Linked DNA regions of Homo sapiens. The protein of the gene in region 1 purifies or fractionates together with the protein of each later gene. This does not show direct contact. Each region holds a gene or a part of one and is shown on either strand. Other genes may lie near its edges. The genes, in order: RGCC, TLN1, TRAF7 and CARS2.

Evidence for each region.
Region 2: the proteins of RGCC (region 1) and TLN1 purify together in Homo sapiens (affinity purification with mass spectrometry; 3 studies listed by BioGRID and IntAct, with this or other methods). This does not show direct contact.
Region 3: the proteins of RGCC (region 1) and TRAF7 purify together in Homo sapiens (affinity purification with mass spectrometry; 3 studies listed by BioGRID and IntAct, with this or other methods). This does not show direct contact.
Region 4: the proteins of RGCC (region 1) and CARS2 purify together in Homo sapiens (affinity purification with mass spectrometry; 3 studies listed by BioGRID and IntAct, with this or other methods). This does not show direct contact.

The regions. Positions count from the first base shown.
Region 1 is NC_000013.11:41,452,969-41,460,549, forward strand, and holds the start of RGCC (regulator of cell cycle RGCC), read left to right. Parts: upstream 1-4,581; 5' UTR 4,582-4,739; coding exon 4,740-4,788; intron 4,789-5,316; coding exon 5,317-5,502; intron 5,503-6,003; exon of another isoform or gene 6,004-6,271; intron 6,272-7,581. UniProt on the Homo sapiens protein: Modulates the activity of cell cycle-specific kinases. Enhances CDK1 activity. May contribute to the regulation of the cell cycle. May inhibit growth of glioma cells by promoting arrest of mitotic progression at the G2/M transition.
Region 2 is NC_000009.12:35,696,448-35,701,223, forward strand, and holds the end of TLN1 (talin-1), read right to left. Parts: intron 3,930-4,776; coding exon 3,744-3,929; intron 3,635-3,743; coding exon 3,527-3,634; intron 3,015-3,526; coding exon 2,909-3,014; intron 2,710-2,908; coding exon 2,585-2,709; intron 2,487-2,584; coding exon 2,361-2,486; intron 2,233-2,360; coding exon 2,170-2,232; intron 2,059-2,169; coding exon 1,876-2,058; intron 1,726-1,875; coding exon 1,597-1,725; intron 1,470-1,596; coding exon 1,344-1,469; 3' UTR 501-1,343; downstream 1-500. UniProt on the Homo sapiens protein: High molecular weight cytoskeletal protein concentrated at regions of cell-matrix and cell-cell contacts. Involved in connections of major cytoskeletal structures to the plasma membrane.
Region 3 is NC_000016.10:2,165,760-2,172,787, forward strand, and holds part of TRAF7 (E3 ubiquitin-protein ligase TRAF7), read left to right. Parts: intron 1-97; exon of another isoform or gene 98-119; coding exon 120-177; intron 178-2,317; coding exon 2,318-2,409; intron 2,410-4,854; coding exon 4,855-4,971; intron 4,972-5,504; coding exon 5,505-5,597; intron 5,598-5,812; coding exon 5,813-5,846; intron 5,847-6,431; coding exon 6,432-6,615; intron 6,616-6,705; coding exon 6,706-6,840; intron 6,841-7,028. UniProt on the Homo sapiens protein: E3 ubiquitin and SUMO-protein ligase that plays a role in different biological processes such as innate immunity, inflammation or apoptosis. Potentiates MAP3K3-mediated activation of JUN/AP1 and DDIT3 transcriptional regulators.
Region 4 is NC_000013.11:110,696,093-110,703,120, reverse strand, and holds part of CARS2 (probable cysteine--tRNA ligase, mitochondrial), read left to right. Parts: intron 1-1,565; coding exon 1,566-1,683; intron 1,684-5,153; exon of another isoform or gene 5,154-5,155; coding exon of another isoform or gene 5,156-5,203; intron 5,204-7,028. UniProt on the Homo sapiens protein: Mitochondrial cysteine-specific aminoacyl-tRNA synthetase that catalyzes the ATP-dependent ligation of cysteine to tRNA(Cys). In addition to its role as an aminoacyl-tRNA synthetase, has also cysteine persulfide synthase activity.

The DNA.
Region 1 (7,581 bases):
CACAGAATGGATGTACACCCACTCAGATATTGGGAGTCATATCAGCCTCTCATCTCCATGGATATTGGGAATAATATCCCAGGGTGGGTGTACACCTCCTGCTGTATGGGGAGTCATATCGTCCTCCCCCATCCTGGCAATTAGGAACAATATCACAGGGTGGGTGTCCACAGCCTGCGATATTGGGACTCATATCACCCTCTCCCCCTCCGGATATTAGGAACAATATCACAGAAGGGTTGTATATTTCCTGCGATACTGCGAGTAATAGCATTCTCTTCTTCCGTGAATATTAGGAGCAATATCACCGGGTGGATGTACACCCACTGCTATATTGGGAGTAACGTCATACTCCACCCCCTGGATGTTATATTCGGATCAATATAACCGGGTGGGTGTACACCTACTGTGATATTGAAAGTAATATCATGCTCTCTCCTTTCCGTGGACATTAGGAACAGTATCACAGGTGGGTGTACACCCACTGCGGTATTAGGAGTAATATTAGTATGAATTATTACACCTTGATTATTAACATGAATATGAATTACCAATATTAATATTAAGAAATAATTGCTAATAAAAAGTTTTCAGATTATTAATATTAATATTATTAGGAGCTAATATTACTGTTTTCTAATGAATAAGATCAGTATCAGTTATTAATATCAGGTGTTATTAATAATTAATATTAATAATTTATTTTTATCATTGGTAGAACTATGTAATAGAAATTATGATTATCGGTATTGATTTAAAAATATCAGTTATTAATATTGATATTATTAATATCAATCAATAATTGATGTTTTAATATCAATCAATAATTGATGTTATTAATATCAATCAATAATTGATGTTATTAATTGCGATAAGTAATATTGCGACATTCCTCACAATATCGCAGAAAATGTACACCCCTCTGTGATGTTGTTCCGAATAGTCAGGGGTAGACGATGGCATTACTCCAAATATCGCACTGGGTGTACATTCCTTCTGTGATCTTGTTGCTAATATCCAGGCTGGGAGAGGATGGTATTAATCCCAATAATCCAGAAGGTGTAGACCTCCCCTGTGATATTGTCCCTAATATCCAAAGGTGGAGAGGAAGATATATCACCCAATTTCGCAGGGGTTGGACACCACCCCTGTGATATTGTTTCTAATGTCCACGGGTAGAGAAAATGACATAACTCACAGTATGGCAGGGGGTGAACACTCCCTCCATGATATTGTTCCTAATACTCGGGGGTAAGAGTATGATATTACTCCCAATATCATAGGGGGTGTACTCCCAATATCCCAGGGGGTGTATAGTATCCCGACCGGTGATAGACTCCGCCACGATGCGGGGAGTAATATCACGCCCCTCTCCTTCCCTGGCTATTACGATACACATCGCAGGGGGGCGGGCGACGCTCGCGACGCGGGGAGAAATATCAGCCCCTCCTGACATTACAAGCCACATGGCAGGGGATGGACACCCCCAGTGATGCGGGGAGTAATATCTACCCCCCCTTCCCCATGGATATTAGGAGCCACATCGAAGGCGTGTGGACAGCCCCCGCTGATGCGCAGAGTAATATCAACCTCCGTCCCTCCCTGCATGTTAGCAGCCACTGTGGACACACAGTGTATTTACGATATTTCCAGTAAGATTATCTTTTCTATTGAACCTTATGAACAAGATCACAGGGGGGTGTACACATCCTGCGATATTGGGGGTAATATCATTCTCTCCTCCACAGCATACTGGGAACAATATCACAGGGGCGTGTATTCCCCCTTTCTTATTGGGAGTCATATCATACTTGCCTTCCATATATTAAGAACAATATCAAAGGGGGGGGTGGACACTTTGACGATATTGGGAGTAACATCATTCTCTCTATCCCTGGATATTAGTAGCAATATCACAGGGGGATGTACATTTCTTGTGATATTGAGAGTAGTATTATTGTCTTCCCCACTGGATATTAAAAACAATACCACATGGGGTGTCAAACCACCTGCCAAATTTGAGGGAATCTTATCCTCTCCCCTGCACCCCCCGCGCCCCGGATATTACAGACAATAACACAGGGGTAATGTACACCCACTGCTTTATTGGGAGAAGCATCATCCTCTCCTCCCTTAGATATTAGGAACAATATCATGGGGAGGGGGTGTACTGCCTCGGCGATATTGGGAGGAAAATTATCCTCTCTTCCCCTGGATATTAGGAAGGGTATCAGAGGGGGGAGAGTGTACATTCCCTGTGATATTCAATGTAATCTTATCCTCTCCCTCCCAGGGTATTAAGAAAAATATTACAGGAGGGTGTACACCCCCTGCAATACTGAGAGTCATATCATCCTCTTTCGCTCTGGATATTAGGAACAATATCACAGGGTTGTGTACTCCCCCTGCGATATTGGGAGTAATATCATTCTCTCTCCCTGTGGATTTTAGGAAGAGTATTACAGGGCTGTGTACACCCCCTGCGCTATTGGGAGTAATATCATCCTCTCTCCCTCTGGATAGTAGGAAGAGTTTCATAGGGGTGTGTACACCCCCTGTGATATTGGGAGTAATATCATCCTGTCGCCCTGAGGAGAGAAGCCATTTCGCTACTGTCTCCTGTCTCTGAAGAGGAGGAGGAAGTAAAAGTTGGAAAACAACAGGAATGAAGTCAGTGTCAAGACCAGCCGGTGGCAATGAGGAGCCGGCCTGAGGTGAAACAATCAACCCCCGTGACTCTAAGTACATGTGCTCTCAATCCATCAAGACCCTTTCACGTGGAACCCCTTAAAGCTGTAAGCCCTTAAACGGGCCAGGAACTCTGTCTTCCTTCCGGGAGCTCGGCTCTTAAGACGCGAGTCTGCCGAAGCTCCCAGCGGAATAAAAAAAACTCTTCCTTCTTTAATCCGCTGTCTGAGGGGTTTTGTCCGCTGCTCATCCATGCTCCATTTCTTTGTTCCCTGACCGGGAATCGAACGCAGGCAGCAGCGGTGAGAGCACCGAATCCTAAGCACTAGACCACCAGGGGAACTTAGAACCTTGTGGGAAATAGATTGCGCACCATTAGAAGTGGGTTGGCCATCAGAAGGAAGCCTGGACAGGTCCCTTGTTTCTAAGGCGTGGCACAAGGTAACTGGTAAAGATACCTAGACCAGTTCCCATACATAGACACTTGGTGACAGCTGGTGCTAGAACCCCCACAGTGGCTGAGGGCATGCAGCAGCAATACTAGTAGCAAAGGGACAGATAGCTAAGGAAGGATCCCGCTCCACTCACCCAGGGAAATCAACTCCTGAAGTTCTGTTCGACCCCACATCAGAGGATCCATTGCAGGAGATGGCACCAGAGATCCCAGTGGTGTCCTCCCCTTAACAGGGAAAGAGGCTCCCCACTCTTGAGCCCACAGTGCTTGTGCCTCCACAAGACAAGCATATCCCTAGGCCACCCAGAGTAGACAAGAGAGGAGGACTATTCATATGATTAGTGGTCATTAACATATACTCCTTTGTGAGGTGTATGTTTCAATGTTTTGCTCATTTTTAATTTTTACCAGGTTGTCTATTTGTGATTACTTTGTAGATGGGTCTTTCTATATTCTGAAAACAAATCCTGGCTGGGTGCGGTGGCTCACGCCTGTAATCCCAGCACTTTGGGAGGCTGAGGTGGGCAGATCACCTGAGGTCGGGAGTTCGAGACCAGCCTGGCCAACATGGACAAACCCCGTCTCTGCTAAAAATACAAAAACTAGCTGGGAGTGGAGGCTGAATGTTTCACTCCGTTACATGTTAATTGCTCTACATTTAATTAGCCGTCTGTGGTGAGAGGCGAGAGGCTAGCGCCTAGCTCAGCGCACAGTCCAGGGCGTTCGCCCCCGCAGGCCGCGGGGCAGGGTGGCTCGTTACTCCGTGGACACTGCAAGGCGCCCTGTTCGCGCTGCGTCGACGCAGTAGTTTCTTCCCATAATAAACCCCTTCTAGATAAAGTCAGGCTGGCGGGAGCGCCCTGGACCGTAGTTCAGGCCCCCGCGCTCCGCGGTGGGAACAGTTCAGGACTCCCCCAACTCCTGCCCCTCTCGCCCCGACCCTCTCCACTCCGCCCGCCCACCATCTCGGAAGTCCCCTTGGGACAATGCGTAGGGGACCTCCGCGTCCCCGACACCCGACTGGGACACGGCCGCGGGCTCCTTCGTCCCTCACCGCCAGCCAGGGAGGCTCTGCATGCCCACGTCCACTTCACAGCCGAGGAAGCTGCGGCTCGCGGAGGTGCCTGGCACGCGGCGGGAAGCAGCAGAGCTCGCGCCCAGCAGTCAGCTCTGGTGACGCCGAGGACACCGCGTGGGCCGGGTTGTCAGGGCGCGGGGGCGAGAGGCGGGTAAATATTTGGGGCTGTAACCGGGGCTTCGGCGACTCCTCGTCACCGCGGTTCCAGGGCGGGCGCGTGGCGAGGGCGGTGCCTGGGGGCAGGGGCCTCCTCGGAGGGCGGCGGGGACAGACCCGTCGCCCCGGCTCCGCAGCCCCGCCCCGGCCCCGCCTCCGCTCCGGCCGCCGAAGGCTATAAGATCTAGGAACCCGAGCCGGTGGTAGGGCGGGCGCGGACCGTGCTGGGAGCGGCGCGGCTGGAGCGCAGCGCCGAAGGGACTGGCAGGGCTGAAGTGTGCGGGACAGCAAGCCCCCGAATAGCCCCGGCTGCCACCTCGCAGGACCCAAGGCCACGCGCGCCGGGCCCAGCTGAGCCGCCTCATGAAGCCGCCCGCGGCGCAGGGCAGCCCCGCGGCCGCCGCGGCCGCAGGTGAGTGCGGGGTCCGGGGTCCCCTTAAAGTCTCGGCTCTGCAGATGGCGGGTGAGAAAGGAGGGGCCCCGTGTCGTCCCTTCACACCCCCCACCCTTCCATCCTCCCCGGCGGGAACCTGTCCCCGGTCTTCCCGCGCGGGCGGCTGCAGCCTCCTTTCCGGCCCGGGCTGGCCCCCATGTCCCACCTTCCCTCCACCACCAGCTCCGCGCGCGCCCGGGGTTGGGGGGAGCGGCGGGGACAGGTAACCGGCAGCGCCTGGGGAGGAATCTGGCCGCGCCAAGTCGCTGGGTGACCCTGGGCCTGGCGAAGGCTCAGTTTTCTTGTCTGTAAAACGGACTTGGTAATAGAACGCACTTCGGGGGTGGTGGAGAAGATTACAAGGTAACAGCGACTGCGTGGCTGTCACTTGGCAGAGGCGCCAAGTGTCAGTTATCTTCGGGAACCGTGGCGGCCCCTCCTGGCCCTGGGAGGTGGTCCCGCTGCCCCCCTGACTTCCGTGCACTGAGCCCCTGGCCCTGCCCGCAGCCCCGGCCCTGGACTCGGCGGCCGCGGAGGACCTGTCGGACGCGCTGTGCGAGTTTGACGCGGTGCTGGCCGACTTCGCGTCGCCCTTCCACGAGCGCCACTTCCACTACGAGGAGCACCTGGAGCGCATGAAGCGGCGCAGCAGCGCCAGTGTCAGCGACAGCAGCGGCTTCAGCGACTCGGAGAGTAAGTGCGGCCCCCGCTAGGATGGCGCCGGGATCTCCCAGCTCCCAGGACCTGCCCCGCGAAGGCTGCGGCCTCAGTTTTCTTATCAGTAAACTGAGGAATGGTTTCCTGAAGCTCAACGCAGTAGGCCGAGTGGTGGCGGGGCCCCTGACGATAATCACGGGAAAGGTCGCTGGAGGGCAGGTTGGTTCACTTGCCGCCCACGGGTGTGTCACCAGGCAGGCGAGTTTAAGCAGCTTGTCCCGACTCAGCCAGACAGGACTCCCTGGACCTGCACCAGGCCTTTCCGCAGTTTCCCTCCTCTTCTCCTTTCCGTGCCTCTCCCCTCTCAGCTGTAACTTTGCAGATGTGGAACAAGTGCCAGTGGAATGAGGGGGCACAGTGGGGACATGGGAGGGCGCAGAACGGAAATATTCATGAAACCAGGAAAGGTTTCATAAGCCCAAACTGCTGTTCTTGGGATTTATGAAATAACTGCTTGCATTGTCTTCTGGCCCTTAGCTCTCAGACTTGTTGCTCCATTGCATGCAGTTATGAAAATCTTTGGCACTGCTGAGTTCAAGTATTTTTCAGCCAGGTCCTCCACCAGGCTGGAGGGGGAGCCAGAGAGCACATGGGCATGAAGGTGGTTCCTGGTGATCTTTCTCACAATGGAGACTACCCCAGGGTCTCTTTGTCCTGAACAACTTTGTCAACAACAGCAACAACAACAAAAACAACAAAAGAGACAGCTTTTTCCAGGAACTCACATGTCCTGGGAGGATTACAGGTACCTCAAACAGCAAATTAGGTGCCTTTTTAATATTACATGATTGTTGGTTTCAAATCCAGAATTGCTTATTGTTTTTCAAAGGGCAAAGTCAATTTTAAACTCTTCTGTGTTATTCTTCAGCCTTTAATCCTTAGATGGGTTACAGGCATGAATGTCACTCCTTTTGCTGCCCTTGACTCAGGACGTGAAAGTAATGGCCTTTCCGTGTGATTCTCTTATTTTGAAACCTGGAGCTCTTCCTTGTTCCTGGGCTAAGATTCGGGGCTAGACATGAACATGAGCTGCCCTTCTGCAAAGGGATAAATGCGCTCACCACCCTGGTCAGGGTTTGACTCAGGAAGCTGAGTTCCAGCTTGTTTCCTTGGCAGCACTGCCAAAGAGTTAGACCAAGCTGCAGCTTTTGAGGTGAAAGGGGATGGAAGAAAGTACTGTTACTTTTCCACTTAGAATTTTTGGACTTTGTTCTTAATGAATAGGTTCATTTTCAATTTCAAAGCAAAGTGTTAACATTTTTGAAATTTGTCTCAATTCTAAAGGCCAAACTTAAATATGTCTCCTCCTACTGGGGCATGGAGCAAGTTATTCATCAAATACAGATTCTCGCATGGAAAAGAAAGCTAGGATAGTGTGTCGCTGCTGCTCTGTGGCAAAGAACAGCTCCTTTCTAAGCAACAGCCTCACTCTACTAGAATAGGTCTGAGCGCGCCCATTCATGGCTGATTGCAACTTCCACTGGGTGGGATTTCAGATCTAGAATCTGTTTTCAGATGCCTTAAAGAGAAGACATAGAAACACATTCTTAACAGTTTCAGGGGAGATAGTTGGGATAGTTTGTAGTTTTGCTTAGGTTATATGTGTCTGTTTTCTGCTTTTGTTGTTAACGGACTAACCCTTAGTTTGGTGGTTAGAGAAGTGATGGGAAGAACATAAAGAAAGCTCAGATGACATTTGTCTTTGCTTTAAATGTGTAGTTTTTCTCTCACAAGGCTAGTCAGAAATATTGTTGGCAGAAGCTGTGTGTATCTAAATAGTAATTTCTTAAGGAAGCATAATATGTATATCTTAATTGCTGCCAAGAATTGAGTACAGACATTTGTTATCCTCGTTTGTCTGTTTAATGCTTTTCTATGGGAGAGAATGCTTAAGAGAGGTAGATACTACTGAAATTTAGCTCATCAAGAGGGAGACACACCAGGATAAGGATAATAACAGCAGCTCACTTTTAGCAAACGCTTGTTATGATGATGATGATGATTTATTAGCTGGAATGGGAACCATGTCTTCACGAATAGACTGAAGTCCTTTTG
Region 2 (4,776 bases), on another chromosome or scaffold:
ATCTACTTCAAGCTTTCCCTAATGTGGTGGGAGTAGAAGGTGTTAGTAGCAGATGGGTGGCGTTTGTGTTCTACTTGAGGAAATAATGTACTGGGCGGTAGGGCTGACTAAAGAATCACGCATGAAAATAGTTGCCAACCTAAGACGACTGTCAGAGAGTCCATGCATTATGGACAGAGTGGCTGGATGGGGACGTGGAAGCACACAGCATCCACCTCTCTGACTGCCTCTTTCCACTGACCCACCAGATAAGCAGGGTGGCTGGAACAGGGCTGCTAGCACCTTCCTGGCCACTAGGGGAGCTCTGCCCCCTCTAACAATAAATTCTCACACCTGGGTCAAGCTCTTCACTTTTAGCGCTACCCTAGGCAGGAGTGTCCCAACCCAATCAAGAGCGGTGCCTACCCGAGGCAGCCTCAAGTTGGGATTTTTCTGCTTGCTAATGGCTTCAATCAGTTTTGTGGCCATAGTTCTCTTAGGCTCAGACACTTACAGGCATATTATTTTTAGCAAAGCTTCTTTTGAAAATTTGAATTTGGTCAAGGACTGGATTTGTTGACATACCCTGAGTAGCTATGAAGAACAGAATGTCCTGGTAGCCACAAGGAACTGTGGTAGCTGCTGTCCCAGCAGCAGCAGAACGACACTTTGTGAGGCTTAGGTGCTGGCCAGGGAGGTGAGGATAACAGGAGTATGACTTCTCAGGCACAACTTCCCCATTGGATAACTTTAGGGTCCGGGTGCAAGGAGGAAGGGACCTCAGGTGCAGACTGCCAGTCTTCCCCTCTCCCATTTCAAGCTGGATCAAGCTGGGTGACAGAATTCAACCCCACTGTCTCTCCTACTGCCCTGGGAGAAAACTTGTATCTCCCTTGAAGCCAGGCAGAGGTTGTAGGTAGAATCATTTTTATTGGAGCATGACCTGTTTGGGGCTTATAACTCTGCAGCCCCTATGGGTAGCTGGGGGTGGGGGAAGATAGTATCAAAAAACGGTGAAGAGAGCTGATGAGGCTGTGGGGACTGGCCGGAAGCTGCTGGCAGGGTGGAGTGGGCTGGGGCCCCGGCAGATTCAGATCGAGGTACAGCAGCGTTAATAATACTCTTGGAGCGTTAATACTCTGGGGAGGGGCAGGCACTTGGGGGGCCCTAGGGCATGAAGGCACTTGGGGTTGGGGAGGGGACAGGGGATGTACTGCGGGACTGGGCGGGGCCAGGCCCTGGGGTTTGGCAGGCACTTTGGGGAGTGCTGGGGTTGGGCAGGTTGGGCCCCGACAGCCCAGAAGGCTTTGGTAGTGGCACGCACAGTCTCTGGGCCGGGTCTGCATTAAATAGAAGAGGCTTCTTTAGTGCTCATCTCGAAGCTCTGAAGGCAGAAACTTGTACTGCTGCTGCCGGATCTGGGCCAGTTTCTTCCGCGCCTCTTCCAGCTCTCGTTCCTTCCGAAGCATTTCTTCCTGTGCTGCGATGATCTGAGGGTGGAGATCGGGGACTTAGTTCAGTGAGGATGCACAGCAGGGGCATAGGGTAGTTGGGACCAGCGCAGGCAACATGACTGCCCTCCTGACAGCGTCCCTCAGCATCTGGGGTGAAGCTCACCTGGGCAATGCCGCCAACCATCTTCTCTTTCACCACCACTGTCTCATTCTCCTGCTCTTCAAAGGCTGCAGCCTTCTGTGCTGCTTTCACCAGATTATCTGAGGCTCGCTTCACTGCGTTGCCAGCAGCCTGGGCAGAGAGAAAGTGGCCTAGGTTGAGAACTCAGGTACGGTCCCAGTTGAGACAGTACCTCAATTCTCTCATAGAAACATACATCTCGGGAGTGACAGTTTGAAGCAGTATAGCCCAAGGGACAATGGGATGGGTCAGGGTTCTCACCTGAAGTCGTTTCATTGCCTCCGAGTCCTGGTCAGCCTTGACCTTGCAGGCCACAAGGAGCTGGGCTGTGGAGGCAGCTACCTGCTTGGCTGATGAGATGAGCTTCTCCTGGCTGGCATGGCCTTGTACAGCTGCATTGGCTGCCTCACACAGATTGTTGGTGGCCGCAGCCACCATCCGGGCCTAAAGCAGGGAGAGTTTGCTTAAAAATATGCCCCTTGCCCTGGTCCATCCCCACTCCAGCCTTCTCAAGTCTCTCAAACTGAGAGAGACCTAGTGGTATTGCACACTTACAGCAGAAATGAGGCCCTGGGACCACTGCCCATCGTCCAGTGCATTGGCTGGAATGGCACCCACCTGTAGGAAGGAGAAGAGCCTACTTAGACCTGCATTTTCCTCACTTCAAAGACTCGCTGGCTATGGATGTGGATGTGGACATCAAAGTGCCAACCTGTCCCCATTCTTCTGGGTATTTAAGCACTCACCTTCCCTTGGGCCACTAGTTCTCTCTGGGCAGCCGACGCAGCCTTTACCAGTGCACTGGTGGCTGCTGCAATGGACTTGGCAGCTTCTAGTATCTGCTCCTCAAAGTTCAAGGACTCATCTGCCTCCTGCAATAAGCGAAGGTTGCAGAAAGAGATGTAAAGTCAGAGATGAAGGTGGGGACACTGCCATGGTGAGGGTGGAAGAGGAAGGGAGCAGGACTGACCTTGGGTTTGGCCCGGGGCTTCAGCTGCTCTAGCTTTTTGGCTGCAGCCTCAATGGCGGCTGCAGCTCCCAGGAGCTCATTCTCAGCAATGACTGTGGGGTCCTCTGGGTCTACCCATTCTGTTCCTGGTGGGATGAAGGAAGAGGAAAGAGGCTAAGGCAGAGTGGGGAGGTCAAAAGCACCAGGGAGCATGGTTAGTATCATCAGGCCCTGGCATCTGTGGGGACTATGGTCAGAGGCTAGCACAGAGCTGTCCAGCCAGGAAGCAGAGATCACACCATGATAAGGGTTTTCCATCCGTCCCTGTCCCTGGTCACCCCTCACCCTTCATGGCTTCAGCAGCCTGGATGAGCTCAGTGACGGAACCAGCCACACGCTTTGAATGTCCTGTCAACTGCTGCTTCAGTTCTGGGCTTGGCTTCTGCAGGGTCTGGGCAAGAAGCGGGCAGGGGACAAAGAGCATCACATCTTAGGGTCTACCCTGATCTATGAAATAGGGCAGACCATGGCCCCCTCACCCCTATCCCTAGAGCACTCCACACCATAGCCCTCAAACTCCACGCTGCCTATCCAAGTACACATCATGCATCACACCTCACACGTGATAGAGACAGTGGGGCTGTGTCACTCACCGGCTGACAAGGAGCAAGGAGAATGATGAGATGAAAGAGGAGACGACGAAAGTAGAGAAGGGGGTGGTCAGGTGGGAAGGGAGGAGAAAAGAAAAAGAGGAAGAGGAAGAGGTGACTGGGAGAACCAAAGATGATAAGAAGGATGGGGCCTGGGAGAAAGGGAGACTTGGAAAGGAGAACAGATTTGGGAAGTAGAGGGTGGGGTAGGGAGGAGATCTGAGCAAAACAGACAGCAGGGTGCGAGGCCTGCAGGAAGAGGGCTGTGTATTCAGGGAGGCTGGTATGAGGAACAAGCAACGCCCTCCCTTACCAGCAGTACATGGTCCAGCAGTTCCAGGTAGCCATTGGCACACTCCCGGCCATAGTGCAGGGCTCGAAGCCGCACATCAGGGGCCACTTCTGGGTGGTAAGCTGCTTCCTGTCCCCAGAGTAATATGTTAGCTTTAGGCCCCGCAGATCCCTACAGTTTCTCTCCCACTATGTTCTGGCCCAAAGCTGCCTCACGGAAATGCCTCAAGGATTTCTACCTTGCAAGCCCGAAGCATATCTGCAATAGCACGGCGGCTCAGATTGGCTGTGGCAATGACATCTTCCTGGCGACAGGAATTGCCAGCAGCAACGGCCTTGGCGGTTGCCATGGTGATACCCTTGGTCATTCGGATGAAGTCTTCTGGGGTAGAGGTCTTGGCAGGTGGCTCTGGGGAACAGAAAACCTGTGGGGGCAGAAGAAGAAGAAAGATTTTACAGTGGCTGAGACTATGAGACAGCGTAGAACTCTGTGTGCATGTGATTTGGTGCAGACATTCACACATCACAGTGAATGTAACAAGGCAGTTGGTTATTGTTTCTGACTGAAGCAACTGGGGAGTTTGTTTGTTTGTTTGAAATCACAAAAGTAATTACAAAAGTGGCTTTTGGCTGGGTTTTCATTCCCAAAATAGAGAGAAGCCTTGAAGGGGTGAGAGGCAGAGCTAGGCCATAAAAGATATACAGATGATAGGAGGGCATTTTAGGTAAATGGTAGGACATGAACAACCAAGATGTCACATCGGAAAGTATCAAGGAATGTTCTGGAATATAGGAATGGTGAAGAAAAGGTTATTGGGGACTTGAATATCACACCGAGGAACTTGGACTTTTACATAATATGTGAAAGTCATAAAATATTTTGATGTACGGGTTCAATCTGCAAACATTTATTAAAGATCAGCTAGGTGGCAGATTCTATGCAAGGGGCTAGGGATGCTCCCTGTTCTCATGGAGCTTACATTCTGGTTTTGGACACAGGTAATAAATAAATAAACAAGCAGCAAAACTGAGGACTGTGATTTGGATTATGAGAGAATAGAGACAGTGCTGTGATGAGAACTACTTCAAATAGGTGGTCAGGGAAGGGCTCTCTGAGGAGGTGACATTGAGGCTGAAGCCTGATGAACTGGAAGGAGCACAGTGTTCAAAAAGCTGGAGAGAACTGAGTGGAAGAGCCTGCAGCAGATAAGAGCTTGGCATGTTCTCAGAACTGATGGTGCAGGGGGATGGGGCACAGAAAGGAAGAGAGTA
Region 3 (7,028 bases), on another chromosome or scaffold:
AGTGTGTGAGTGCTGCGTGGCCTGGCCTGGTCGCGTGTTAGGCATGTGAGTGGGCTCCACATGTGCACGTCCTCCTTGTGTCCCGGAATGAGGCCAGGTCTCCTCCGTCCTCCCTCTAGACCAGAATGGAAACGACCTTCGGACCCGCCTTTTCAGCCGTCACCACCATCACAAAAGGTGAGCCCTTAAGCCAAGGCCAGCCCAGGCTGGGAATAACCGGGGCACCCCCATGCCCACCCTGCTAAGGACTGAGGGACACTTCCCGGTGAGCTGGTGTTGGGTGCCAGTGCTGGGCGCGGGCAGCCTCACACCGCAGCCTGTGTCCTCACAGCCTCTCAGCCCTGGGCCTCCCCACTGGACAGGAGTCGGGTGTCCTGCTCCTTGTGCCTCGGTGACTGTGCTGTGCCCTCTCTCCCTGCCCTCTTCATCCCCTCTAGGGAGGCTTGCCCTGACATCTCCAGCACCACCACACAGCCCTGTCCCTTGTCACAGTGATCCCCAGCTTGTCCCCAGTCTCAGGCTCCTGGCCAGCCTCCGAAAGGTCCCGTGTGCCCGGAGGTCTTCTCTTGAGTTTGGCCCTAGGGCTTCAGTAACAGTGCTGCAGTTGTGACATGTTAATAGGAAGGGAGGGAGAGTGGAAGAGATCCATAAGTCTGGTTTGTTTTTTTGAGACGGGTGTCACTCTGTCACCCAAGCTGGAATGCAGTGGCGCAATCTTGGCTCACTGCAACCTGTGCCTCCTGGGATCAGTCCTGCCACCTCAGCCTCCCAGGTAGCTGGGACCACAGGCACCACCACACCTGGCTAATTTTTTTTATGTTTGGTAGAGATGAGGTCTCACCATGTTGCCCAGGATGGTCTCAAATTCCTGGGCTCACGTGATCCTCCTGCCTTGGCCTCCCAAAGTGCTGGAATTACAGGCATGAGCCAGCAAGCCAAGCCCAATAAATCTTCACCTGCACAAGACCACTGGGCGGGATACACGACAGAAACCTGAAGCTTCCCTGCTGCTTCTCAGTCCTATCCCCTAAAAACCAGAGTGCTGCGCTTTGAACGCAAGCGCCGTGCTCAGGGAGACCATGCGGAAGTGGCAGTGCCTTCTTCCCGAGGTGCAGGGCCAGGGACCCTCATTCCGGGGTGGGGTTCTGGGGTGACTTTGTTCTCTCTCCTTTCTGGCACTCTGCCCTTTGTAGAAGCACACTGGCTGCTAATTAGCTTTTTAATTGCTCTGATAAACCTGGCCATGGGGTCATAGGGCCGCCAAGGACACCTGCTTACAGTAGCGCCTCTTTGCTGCTGGTGATCCCCTCAGGGGCTCTCCAGGGGCCCTCTTTTTTTTTCTAATCCTACCCCCCAAAAAACGGTGCCTTTTCATCTACCCTTAGAAGCCCCATGGCCCCTGTCACACGGCGGAAGGTACCCATGATGGGGCAGGGCACGGCTGCTATGCCTGGCCCCTCGGCGGCAGGGATGGGCAGAGCCAGGCAGCAGGGCGCCCACAGGTACCTCACCTGGCCCCTCATGACAGATGGGGAAACCGAGGCCCAGTCACACGGCAGCCTCTCGAGGCCTCAATCTCGAGCCCAGGGCTCATCGTGACATCTGAGCTGGGCTGGTCCTGAGTCCGGGAGGTGTCTCTCTCTGCCTCCCACGTGGACTGACCGGCCGGTAGCCCTGCCCTCTGGCCCTGGCCAAGCTGGGGTGACGTGTGGGCAGGAGGAGGGAGGGCACTTCAGCTCCTGCCCCAGAGGAGGCCACCAAAGCTGGGGCCACTTCCTGGTCCTGGCTGTGCCAGGGACACCAGGATGCGGTCCTGGCCCTTCTGTATCCCAGCCCACACCTCAACCTCAGCTTCCCCCTCTGTGAGTGGAGGCTGTCAGGGAACTCACCTGGCAGAGGTGCCTCAAGAGGCAAATAAAATGGCACCCCCAGCTGCTGCCAGGCGGCCTTCAGAGTGATGGCTGCGTGCTGGCCATGAGCCTCAGCTGGCTCAATTGGGGTGCTGGGGAGCTTGTAGAGGCCCTGAAAGAAGACCCTGCCTGGGGTAGGCAGGGCTGGGGCAGGGGCTACCGGGCTCAGCGCTGGGACTGTCCAGATGTAGACCGAGCCCAGCGTCCATGCTCCTGGCACTGGTTTGACCTTGAGAGGGAACCCAAGCTTCCCCCGTGCCATCCCTGCATGCTTTCCTGCCTGCCTGGCCCTGGGGAGGGCTGTGAGCTACAGGGGACCCACAGGGTCGGGTATCCAGCATGGGCCCCACCTCCCCCACATCTGCTGAGGGAGCCCCCACTGAGACGCCAGCCCTCTTGCCTTGCAGCTGACGGGACCAGCACCTACAAGCAGCACTGCAGGACACCCTCCTCCTCCAGCACCCTTGCCTACTCCCCGCGGGACGAGGAGGACAGCATGGTAGGTCCCTACCCCCAGGAGCCCGTGTGAGCCTCAGCCTCCCCCCATCCTCCCTCCTGGGGGAACCAGGTCCCAGGAGGAGTTGACAGTGAGCTGGTGAGGCACAGGAGAAGAAGAGCACCTGTGGATACCCTGAGGCCTCGGCAGACATGGCAAGTCTGTGAGAAAGGAGGCTCCTGTGGCTGGACTGTGGGTGGCAGGGGGCAGCCAGTGAGGGCAGCTGGGTCAGAGGGCCTGGCACCTGCAGGCCAGGATGAGGCATATTTGGCTCCATCTTAAGGGAGGTGGAAACCACAGAAAGTTCAGTCAGGAGGATAGCACAATAAAATACATGCTTTGAAAGCTTCCTTTGCTGCTGGGTAGGGAATGAGCGGGGTTGCTGGGTCCAGGCAGGGTTTGAGGAGGGGTCCTGATGAGGCGGGGGGAAAGGTGTGTGGACCTAAGCTGTGGGGACACCAGAGGCAATGGGGTGGGGGTTGCGGAACCTGCGCCAAGTGCTGGGGGAGCCGGAGAATTCCCTGTTGCTGGCTGTGTGAGGTGCAGAAAGGATCAGGGCAGTCGGGGGCTGGCTGCTGGTACCTGAGCCCTGTGGCCAGGGTCTCAGTGGCCGTTCCCTGCCATCCTGGTCAATGGCGCTCATTGCTGGGCTCTGGGCCTACCCAGGGGACAGAGGCCAACTCTACCCTGGGCATGAAGGACTGGCCCAGCAGGGGGTGGGGGTGTGTGGGGCCTCTCTGGCAGCTGCCTCTCTCCAGTGCTTGGACACCAGGTGTGGCGGCCCTGCTGGCCCTCTTGGGACCGAGGCCTTTTCTTTTTTCCTTTTTTCTTTTTTTTGAGACGGACTTTTGCTCTTGCTGCCCAGGCTGGAGTGCAATGGTGTGATCTCAGCTCACCACAACCTCCGCCTCCCGGGTTTAAGTGACTCTCCTGCCTCAGCCTCCCGAGTAGCTGGGATTACAGGCGTGCACCACCACTCCTGGCTAATTTTGAATTAGTAGAGATGGGGTTTCTCCATGTTGGTCAGGCTGGTCTCGAACTCCCGACCTCAGCTGATCTGCCCCCTCCTTGGCCTTCCAAAGTGCTGGGATTACAAGTGTGAGCCACCTTGCTCAGCCAGAAAAGAAGTTTTTAATTAATTGAACAAACACACCTGTGTGCCGGGCGCTGTGCTAGGCCGAGGGCGAGTTGGGTATGTCTGGGCCCCGTCCCCTGGGCCTCTGCCTGCCTCGGTCTCCACAACCCGAAGCCACGAGTCCTCCATGTCTGTGGTTCCCATAATCACCTGCTATCCCCATGGGTCACGGTGGCTTTCAAGAGAGGCGGGTACCTTCTCTGTTTGCTGATAGGCCCACACAGGGAGTCCCCCTCCTGCCCTTCCCCCGTCCCCCAGGCCTGCCTGCTGTCAGCCCCTACGCCCAAGAGGGTGGGAGACTCTGGGGTAGTATTGGGCAGGCCCGGGAGAGTGGTTCCCGTGCCAGCTCCTGCTCTGCTCTCGCCCCTGGGGCTCCCTCTGCTGCTGTGGGGCCTTGTGACTCACTTTCTCTGACTCCCTTCTGTTCCCCATGTGCTGCTTCCATGCAGACGGGCCCTTGGGACCCAAAGGGAGGTGGGTACATGGCACACAATGCCCCCCGCCGGCCTTGGGACTGGTTTGCCTCTGTGCTCTGTGGGTTTCATACCCAGGCTGCCGGGAAGGGGGCCAGAGGCTCGGCAGAGCAGCAGCTGGGCCCCTCTGCAGTCAAAGCACCAGGAGAGAAGCCTTGGGCAGTGTGGCTCTTGGAAACTTCTGGAGGTTTCCAGGCCAGAGGGGAGGAAGGGACAGTGTCTGCCCCTCCCCCAGGCTCCCTTGTCGGTGGCTCAGCCAGAGGCAGGCACCTGTGGCCCTCACTCCTGCCCTCGGGAAGCTCAGCCGAGGTTCTCTGGGGGCCTGGCCCTGCCTTCCCTCTGAGCCTCCCAGCTGGGCCTGGTGTCCCCCACCAGCAAGGCCAGACAAGCAGCCAGGCCCGGGGGGCACCTGGAGCCCAGCCGTCGCTCCCTGCCAGCATTCCTGGCCCTTCCATCCTGCGGTCACGGCCTCGGCTGTCCAGGATTGGCTGGTGGAGGTGCCCCCTCACGGCCCACATTCCCCCACGGGAAGCAGGAAGCAGCCCGGGTATATGGAATTGAATAGCAGGAAGTCTCTCCATTTACACAAAGAGAGGTGGCAGGCGTGAGCGGGCAGCCCAGCACCCCGGCCCAGGCCGCCCAGGCGGGCAGGCAGGGACCTGGGTTGCATCAGCTCCCCACGCCCACCCACGGCCCCCGTGGACGAGGAGAGTACCCGCAGGGACCGGGGTGGCCCCAGGGGTGCTGCTGCCCTCGCGCTTCCGCCGGGCTGGGTCCTGTCCTCCCCGAGGCTCTGACCCCGTGCGGAGCCCCCCGACAGGCGCCTCTCCCTCCACACAGCCCCCCATCAGCACTCCCCGCCGCTCCGACTCCGCCATCTCTGTCCGCTCCCTGCACTCAGAGTCCAGCATGTCTCTGCGCTCCACATTCTCACTGCCCGAGGAGGAGGAGGAGCCGGTAGGTGTGGGGGACTCGGCGCAGAGCGGCTTCCAGGGCTGTCACCGCAGCCGTGGCACGGAGGCACCTTCCCCTCCGCCATGCCCGCCCAGCTCACAGGGAGAGGGCGGCTGGGGCCTGACGGGAACTGCAGTGCTTGCTGGTCCGTGGTGGGGACTCGAGGGACCAGGCCGGGTCCCCTGGGCATGTTCCCCCACTCCCCCTTCTCAGGGCTGCCCGGGAACTGGCAGCGGGAAGCACAGGGCTCCAGCAGGGCCCTTTCTAGTCTCACCCCAGGAAGGAGGCGGGCGAGGGCGGCCAAGGCTGGGCGGCTGAACTCATCCTCCGGGGTTGGGCCCTGCCTCTGGGGCCACAGACCTCGCTCTCCCTCCTGGGCCCCGATCAAGCCCCCCAGCTCTAAGCAGGCCTCTCTCAGGACGTGACCCTGTCCTCAGAGGACAGCCAGGCCTGGAGCAAGAGCGCCTGGGTGCCTGGGTGGTGGCGGGGCTGAGGGTGGCCTCCCGCCATCGCCTGCCTTTCCCGCTTGGTTCCAGGAGCCACTGGTGTTTGCGGAGCAGCCCTCGGTGAAGCTGTGCTGTCAGCTCTGCTGCAGCGTCTTCAAAGACCCCGTGATCACCACGTGTGGGGTGAGCCCGCCGCCCTTCCCAGCCCCCCTGCTGCCAGAGGCCCCCACAGGACCCCAGGGCTCTCGGGGGCCGGGGCTGTGGCGCCCTGGCCTTGGTCAAGGCCTGTCCTGGCTGCACTGGGCTTGGGGTACAGCGAGGCCTGTGGCTGCCATGGCCATGGACTAGGGAAAAAGAGGACCCTGCGCCACCCTCAAGCCCGCCCTTTGCCTCCACAGCACACGTTCTGTAGGAGATGCGCCTTGAAGTCAGGTAGGTTTGTGCCCCGGCCCAGGCCTGACGCCGACCGTGCCCATGGCTGCCGAGCAGAGGCGGGCGGCTTCTCCCTTGTCCCCTGCACAGCGTCCGGCCCTGTTTGGCCTCTGCTGGGGTTGGGATGGGGCTGCAGCCGTCCTAGGGACGCTCAGGCTGAGGCTCGGGACCTCCATGAGCAGAGTGGGGACACCCCAAATTCCAGTGTGTCCAGACTCAGAGACCCCACAGTGGGTGTGGGCCGAGGCTCCCCATGCCAGGGTTGGCACCCTCTGGGGAGGCCTTTCTCACTGGCGAGGCTGTCGTCCTCCCGCACGGCGCCCGCTCCTGCCTGCCTCTCCGCACTCTGCCCTCTGCCCTCTTGGCCCCACCCCACACTTTTCCGGGCACAGCTGAGTGTCACAGGTGACACTCCCTCAGCACCTGCTGCTCCTTCTTGGTGGCCCACCTGTGCCCCCGTTCCCATGTTGCGTGCCTCAGAGGCGCAGATGGACAGATCTGGCCCCCATTAGAGGCTCATGCCCACCCGGGTGAGGGAGCGTGTGCCAGGCAGGCCGTGAGGGTCAGCACGCCCTCCTCTCCCAGAGAAGTGTCCCGTGGACAACGTCAAACTGACCGTGGTGGTGAACAACATCGCGGTGGCCGAGCAGATCGGGGAGCTCTTCATCCACTGCCGGCACGGCTGCCGGGTAGCGGGCAGCGGGAAGCCCCCCATCTTTGAGGTGGACCCCCGAGGGTGCCCCTTCACCATCAAGCTCAGCGCCCGGAAGTAAGTGCCCCTCCCTGGGCACCTCTGCCTCCCTGGGGGCTGCTTCTCAGGGCTCTGGCTGAGGCCTCCCCGCATCCCGCCCTGGCACAGGGACCACGAGGGCAGCTGTGACTACAGGCCTGTGCGGTGTCCCAACAACCCCAGCTGCCCCCCGCTGCTCAGGATGAACCTGGAGGCCCACCTCAAGGAGTGCGAGCACATCAAATGCCCCCACTCCAAGTACGGGTGAGTGGGGGGCGGGCGGGGGTGGGCCGGGGTGGGCGCAGGCCCTCCACAGGCTCCGCTGAGAGCTGCCCGCTTGCTGGTCCCGGGGAGGTAGGCCGGAGCTGGGGCCACACCGGGGTCTGTAATCCTCTCTGAGGCCCAAGGCCCTGGAAACCCAGAGGGGGAGCCGAGGGCGTCCAGGAAGGCGG
Region 4 (7,028 bases), about 69 Mb from region 1:
TTGGGGAAAACAAATAGATCAGTTTGGTGCTAGGGGGGAGGAGCAGGGGAAGGGATGGGGCGTCAGTTGCAGCCAGACTGGGGAGGGTGCTGCGTGGTCTGGCCCAGAGAGTTTGGATTTCATGCCATGGTAGACGGAGTCACACTGGAGCGTTTTGAGGGAAGACTCTTAGCAAATGAATCATTTCAGCGATCACCCAGATGAGCACACTCACCCAGTGGATGGAGAAAATGGGGCAGAAAGAGCCGGGCTGACGGTAGCATGGTTCATGGTGGAGTCACAGAAGCAAGCTGAGGTCTCCTGATGCCATGTTCTTCAGACTTGGCTGCCCGGCACTTGCAAGGCGTGTGTGTGCGTGTTTGTGTATAGAGTGGCCCCTGTGGTCACAGCCTGCCTGCAGCGTCTCAGGGTCTCAAATTGCTCATGACCCTGCATTCCGCCAGCTCTGCCAAGCTGTGGAGCCTCTGCTGTCTCCAAGGGCAGTTCCGGGACTCAGCCTGGGCTCCTCTGGGCCAAGCAAGGGACTTGACTCTTGTTTTCATTTGCTTTAGGTTCCTGTAATTTTTTTCTTGTAAATCTCACATCTTTTAGACTCTTTCCCAACTTGAGGTGAATGAAGGAGCATGGTGATGAGAATGGTAATAATAGCTTGTGTTTTTAGAATTCATGCTGCACAGGCGGTAAGGCTGGACAGCAGTCCTGTTAGGTGGTGGGATTTTGCCAAATTTATAAGCAAGCCGACTGAGCTGTAAGAGGTTAATTATCTTGTTGAGTTTTGGAGATAGTTTTGTCCCTGGAATCAAGATTTGGTCTCAGCTGTGTTTGGAGAGGGAGGGGGTGTGTGGGAGGTTAAAGTGATACAATAACATGGCTAGGATTCCCCCACACCACCCTAAGAGAAAACAATTTTACGAACTGAAATTTAGGCCACATGGATAGCAGAGGTGAGTGTGACATTAGATAACCTTGAGTTTTAAGGTAACTTTTATGGGAAAACAGATTCTTGAGATGCTAAGTAGATTTTAAACCCTTTTAGTTTTACAAGTCTGAATTACCCCAGTGTAGTATATAAATAAGCTGGCATTTTTAAATATTCTACACTAGTGTGTGCATTCTTAGGAGTAATCTTATATGGCTTTAATGGGATCGTACTTGTTTTGATTTGGTATTTGCTTCTGTTTTGTCATAGTGAAAAATTAGAATTACTCTAGAACATGAACAAGAATGGTGAAAACACGATCTTAACTGAGAGATTGTATTATGAGTGAATTTTTATACAATTAAATAGACTTCAACTCACTTAAGCAACAACTCCAAAATTAAAAATGCTAATATTGTGTCCTGAAATTGATGCAATACCTTTGTCAGTTTCTCCTGAGAACCCTTGTGGCGCAGGCCCTGGTGCCATCAGTGAGAGGGAGTTTCCTTGTACCTGCTCCGCTGACCTGTCCATTGTGCTACACAGTAGAAGTTATGGAGCAGCATGTTAAAATGTAATGGATTTTTTACAAAGATAACTGATGACTTTGTGTAATAAAGACATCCTGACACTTTTTTTCTTTCAGCTCATATGTTAGATTTGATATCATTCGAAGGATCCTAACCAAGGTTTTTGGATGCAGCATAGTCATGGTGATGGGTATTACAGATGTAGATGATAAAATCATCAAAAGAGCCAATGAGGTAAGTGGAGAAGAGTTACATCTATTGATAATGCCATTGATTAGTGTTCTGAGCCCTTCCTGAAAGTGGTTCTTGGCCGGGCGTGGTAGCTTACGCCTGTAATCCCAGCACTTTGGGAGGCCAAGACAGGTGGATCACTTGAGGTCAGGAGTTTGAGGCCAGCCTGACAAACATGGTGAAACCTTGTCTGTACTAAAAATACAAAAATTAGTCAGGTGTGGTGGCGGGCTCCTGTAATCCCAGCTCCTCAGGAGGCTCAGGCAGGAGAATCGCTTGACCCTGGGGGGGCGAAGGTTGCAATGAGCGGAGATTGTGCCACTGCACTCCAACCTGGGTCATGGAGACTCTGTCTCAAAAAAAAAAAGAAAAAAGAAAGTGGTTCTTGTTTGCATTTTACAAGTAGTTCTCACATCTTATTGTCCATGTGTGGCCAGTGGGTGTAATCTGAGACATGAAACAGTGCTGGGTTAGCAGGGTTTCTTTGGTGCCCTAGTAAAGGAAGTTAACATCTATCGTATTGTGATCGCTGAAGGCTTTTCTGTGGCCTCGTGTCGTTACCTCCTTCTGTGGTCGTCTCCTGGCTCCAATCTTACTCCCTCCCCTGGCCCCTCGGCCTCCAAGGGAAATGACTTGACTTTCTCTTTACTGAGGGAACCAGACCCACTGATTGGACGTATTCATATTTGTGCTAATGATGCCTTTCATGTCTGTGTCTTGATAGTTTAAAAAGTACTTTTTGTATCTATTAGTATTTCAGTCTCAGAACAACCCTGTGTGCTGCGCAGAGCAGACCTTATTGTGCTTTTTTTAACACATTTTATTCCATATTAAAAAATTATTTGAAGCGATTTGAGATCTACAGAAAAATGACAAGAATAGTACAAAGATCTCCTGCAGCCACCCTGGGTTTCCTCGTGGCCATTGTTGGCTGCGTTGGGCCATCATCTTCTCTCTGTTCTAGACTTTTCCCACCAGGCCGCCTCCCCTCTCTGCACACGCCACGCGTGCCTTCAGAGCAAGGTCACTGGCTCTCGAGGCCCGCACAGCCCTCCCAGTCAGGAACCGGACATTGATGCAGTGCGCTGGTGTGGGTGACATGGACGTCAACCCCAGGTGTTGTCCCTGTCCCCGAGCGCCTCTTTCTTTTCTGTTCTAGAACCCCTTCCAGAGTCCTGTTGTCTCCTCGGTCTCCTTCAGTCTTCAGTAGTTCCCTGTCTCATGTCCTTGACACTGTCAAGGATTGTAGGACTTTGATTTTGTAAGGTGGCCCTCCACTCAGGTTCATTGGATGTGTCCCCATCTTGCAGAAGAGTCAAGAGGTTAAGGTGATCACATCTTGAGGTTGCACAGACCTTCAGGGGCAGGGCCACTCCCACAGCTCTGACTTCAGCTATCTCTGGGCAAGTACCCCTGCCAGGTGGGAATGGCCTGCGCACTTGTGGCGGGTAGCAGAAGTCTCTTTCCCGTGCAGGCTGAGGGCCCCACTGGAGTCTGGCCCACACCTGGAGTGTGGTGCCTGGCAAGCTTTGGGAAGACACAGTGGATGAGGTTGTACAGGCAGGTGGGACATTGGAGGCGCCTCCTCGGGCTCTCCCTGTTGGCTGGGGGCCAGTGCCCCGCACATCACTTCTACCGGAAGGGCTTTGGTGGGTCCTTTGACTTTAACTGCTGGTGAGGAAGACTTTTCCTAAAGAAGCCATTCTGATGAAACGCTGTCACTCTTTGCCCCACATGCTGTCTTGTGTCGGCTTTCTCCATTGCGGGTGCTTCCTCTAATCACCATTCTCTCTGGACATTTTTGCCCATTTTCACAATTCACTGTGGTTTAGCATACAAGACAGTCTATTCATTTGTGTGTTAGTTAGGATGACTGGCTATTTCCTTTTCCTGAATCTGATGAAGGAATTTAAGTAAAGCTGACCTAATTTTGATGTAGACGAGATGTAGTCTTGTGATACTTTGCCAGTTACCACTGCTTTTACCAGCATGTGTTACAGTGGAAATGTTCTAACATACATGAAGTAGAGAGAAGAGCATATGAACCCATGCACCTGTCACCGGCGTCCATGGTCAGCACCTGTTCCACCCCTGTTCTCTCTGCTTTTTGTGGAGACCACCTGTGGATTGTCCAGTGGTGGGCTGCTGTTTGGCAGTTTGACCCTCCAAGAGCATTAGACGGTGTTTGTCTTAGTCTGTTTTGTGCTGCTGTAACAGAACACCACAGGTTGGGTAATTTATAATGAATAGAAACGTATTTGCTCACTATGCTGGAGGCTGGAAACCAAGATCAAGGTGCCAGCATCTGGCAAGGGCCCTCTTACTGCATCATCCCATGGTGGAGGGCAAGAGGTCAAGGGGAGAGAAAGAAGCCCTGCCAAAAGCCCCCTGCCCCCACCCCTCCTTGGGTTTTTTTTTCTTTTTTTTTGGAGACAGGGTCACACTGTGTCGCCTAGGCTGGAGTGCAGTGGTGTGGTCATAGTTCAGTGCAGCCTTGATCTCCTGGGCTCAAGCTGTTCTCCCACCTCAGCCCTCCTGGTAGCTGGGACTCAGCTGTGCACCACCACACATGACTAATTTTTTTCTTTTTTCTATTTTTAGTAGAGATGCGGTTTCACTATGTTGCCCAGGCTGGTCTCAAACTCCTGAGCTCAAGCAATCCTCCTGCCTCGGCCTCCCAAAGTGCTAGGATTACAGGTGTGAGCCACTGCACCTGGCCGGAAAGCCCTTTTAAGAAGGCATGAAGCCCATCCAAGAGGGTGGGGCCCTCACGGCCTAATCACTTCTTCAAGTTCTCACCTCTTAATACTGTTACAAGGGCAAATAAATTTCAACATGAGTTTTGGAGGGGACAAACATTCAAACCATAGCAGTGTTTCTGGTGCTTTTTAAAAAAAACTTGCTGGATTTTTTTTTTTTTGAGACAGAATTTCACTCTTGTTGCACAGGCTGGAGTGCAATGGTGCTATCTCCGCTCACTGCAACCTCCACATCCCGGGGTCAGGCGATTCTCCTGCCTCAGCCTCCCGAGTAGCTGGGATTACAGACACCCACCACCATGCCTGGCTAATTTTTGTATTTTTAGTAGAGACGGGGTTTCACCACGTTGGCCAGGCTGGTCTCGAACTCCTGATCTCAGGTGATCCGCCCTCCTCGGCCTCCCAAAGTGCTAGGATTACAGGTGTGAGCCACCACGCCTGGCCTGGATTTCTTTTTTTGAAAAAAAAATATACATATACATACTTTTTAAGTCAGTGAGATTTGAATTATAGCATTTGTCTGTCATTGTGGCTTCCCTTCCTCTTTAACCTCCCGTCACACCCATGCATCTTCCTTTTGTGAAATGGGGTGGAACTAGTGACTAAAGATTTGGATTGGAAGTCAGAGGCCGCCTTTGGGCTGGGGCGTTTATCTGAAAAGAGGCTGAACTTTGTCATTTGTTGAGTGAACAGAGCTCTTCTCTTGTCTCTTAGGCATGAGTCAAAGGAATGGTGTGAGGTCCTTGAGGAACATTTTCACTGAGGTCTCTGTCTTCCTATTTTCTATTGATTTGTCTTTCTCATAACTGGGTAGTCTCCCACCGCATGGGGCTGTTTAGCAGTTCTAGCCTTTTCCCAATTGCTGTTTGTATTGCTTCTGGCTGTTAAAAAGAGTGCTGCTATGAACATATATGCTTTTGTTTTGTTTACTTATAAATATATTTCCTGTGGCTGGGTGCAGTGGCTCACGCCTGTAATCCTATACTTTGGAAGGCTGGATCACTTAAGCCCAGGAGTTAGAGACCAGTCTGGCCAACATGGCAAAACGCTGTCTCTACTAAAACACAAAAAATTAGCTGGGTGTGGAGGTGTGCACCTGTAATCCCAGCTACTCGAGAGGCTGAGACACGAGAAGTACTTGAACCCGGGAGGTGGAGGTTGCAGTGAGCTGAGATCGTGCCACTGCACTCCAGCCTGGGCCACAGGGTGAGACTCTGTCTCTAAATAAAAAGTTAATTAATTTCCAAAGCGGAATTGCTAGGTCAAAGGGGGAACAGTTTATTTGATATCTTGCAACTGAGAGTCAGATCATTGAGAGACTGGCAGTGCTGGAAATCGGCTCCCACTTTAAATGTATTTCTTCACATCCTTACCCCCAGCCTATAAGAGGCAGGATTTAGAAGGCAGGTGCGTGATGTCTAAGGCTGTGCGTGAATGTCTAGTCACCAGGTAACCCTCAGCAGAGGTGGTGTTTGGAAATGCCCCACTGGTAAAGAAGGAAGGTCAGTGGTTCGGGGCTTTCACCTGCCGTCGGGGCAGCCAGAGCCTGAAATGAAAGCACTTGGTAGCTTCGTGCCTCTCATGAATCTTCAAGATCAGAAAGAATTGTGTCAGTCCCCATGTCCTGGTGGCAGGGAGCTGGTAGAGGCTGAGACACTGGCTGAGTTCTGGAGGGAGCCCCATGGGACAGAGAAAGGGCCCCGCAGGGGATGGGAGGAGAGGTGAGGACACAGTGTACTTGGAGGGTGTCATGGGGGCGATGGGGAAGGTGGGGCAGGAACGTTGCCATCAGAGAAGCGGGACAAGAGCCCCGAATCCAGGGAGCAGAGAACTGCAGGAAGGAGGAGGTGGCCAGCGTGGTAAAGGGAGGAAGAAGCAAGAGTTAATTTCACAGATGCCACAAGGAGGGATTGGTTGTTAACTTTTTTAAAAATGTTATGATTAGAATATGAAAAACTTGGTAGAATTGGTTAAACATTCTAACTGTAGAGAGTAGTTAATTTTTGAACCAGAGAATTTCCATACTTGGTACACAGCAAGATCCTAAGATGGTATTGAATAGTTTCTTTCCTCAAAATAATGTCTGACTTCAATGTAATAAAACATGTATCTGAAACCCATAGTTATGAAAACATCTGTTTTTTAGTATTTAGTGAAAAGGTAATTCTTTAAGAAATGCAAATCAAAACCACAGTGAGATAACATCTCATGCCAGTTAGAATGGCGATCATTAAAAAGTCAGGAAACAACAGATGCTGGCGAGGATGTGGAGAAATAGGAACGCTTTTACACTGTTGGTGGGAGTGTAAATTAGTTCAACCATTGTGGAAGACAGTGTTGCGATTCCTCAAGGATCTAGAACCAGAAATACCATTTAACCCAGCAATCCCATTACTGGGTATATACCCAAAGGATTATAAATCATTCTACTATAAAGACACATACACACGTATGTTTATTGCAGCACTGTCCACAATAGCAAAGACTTGGAACCAACCCAGATGCCCATCAGTGATAGACTGGATGAAGAAAATGTGGCACATGGAATACTGTGCAGCCATAGAAAAGGATGGGTTCATGTCTTCTGCA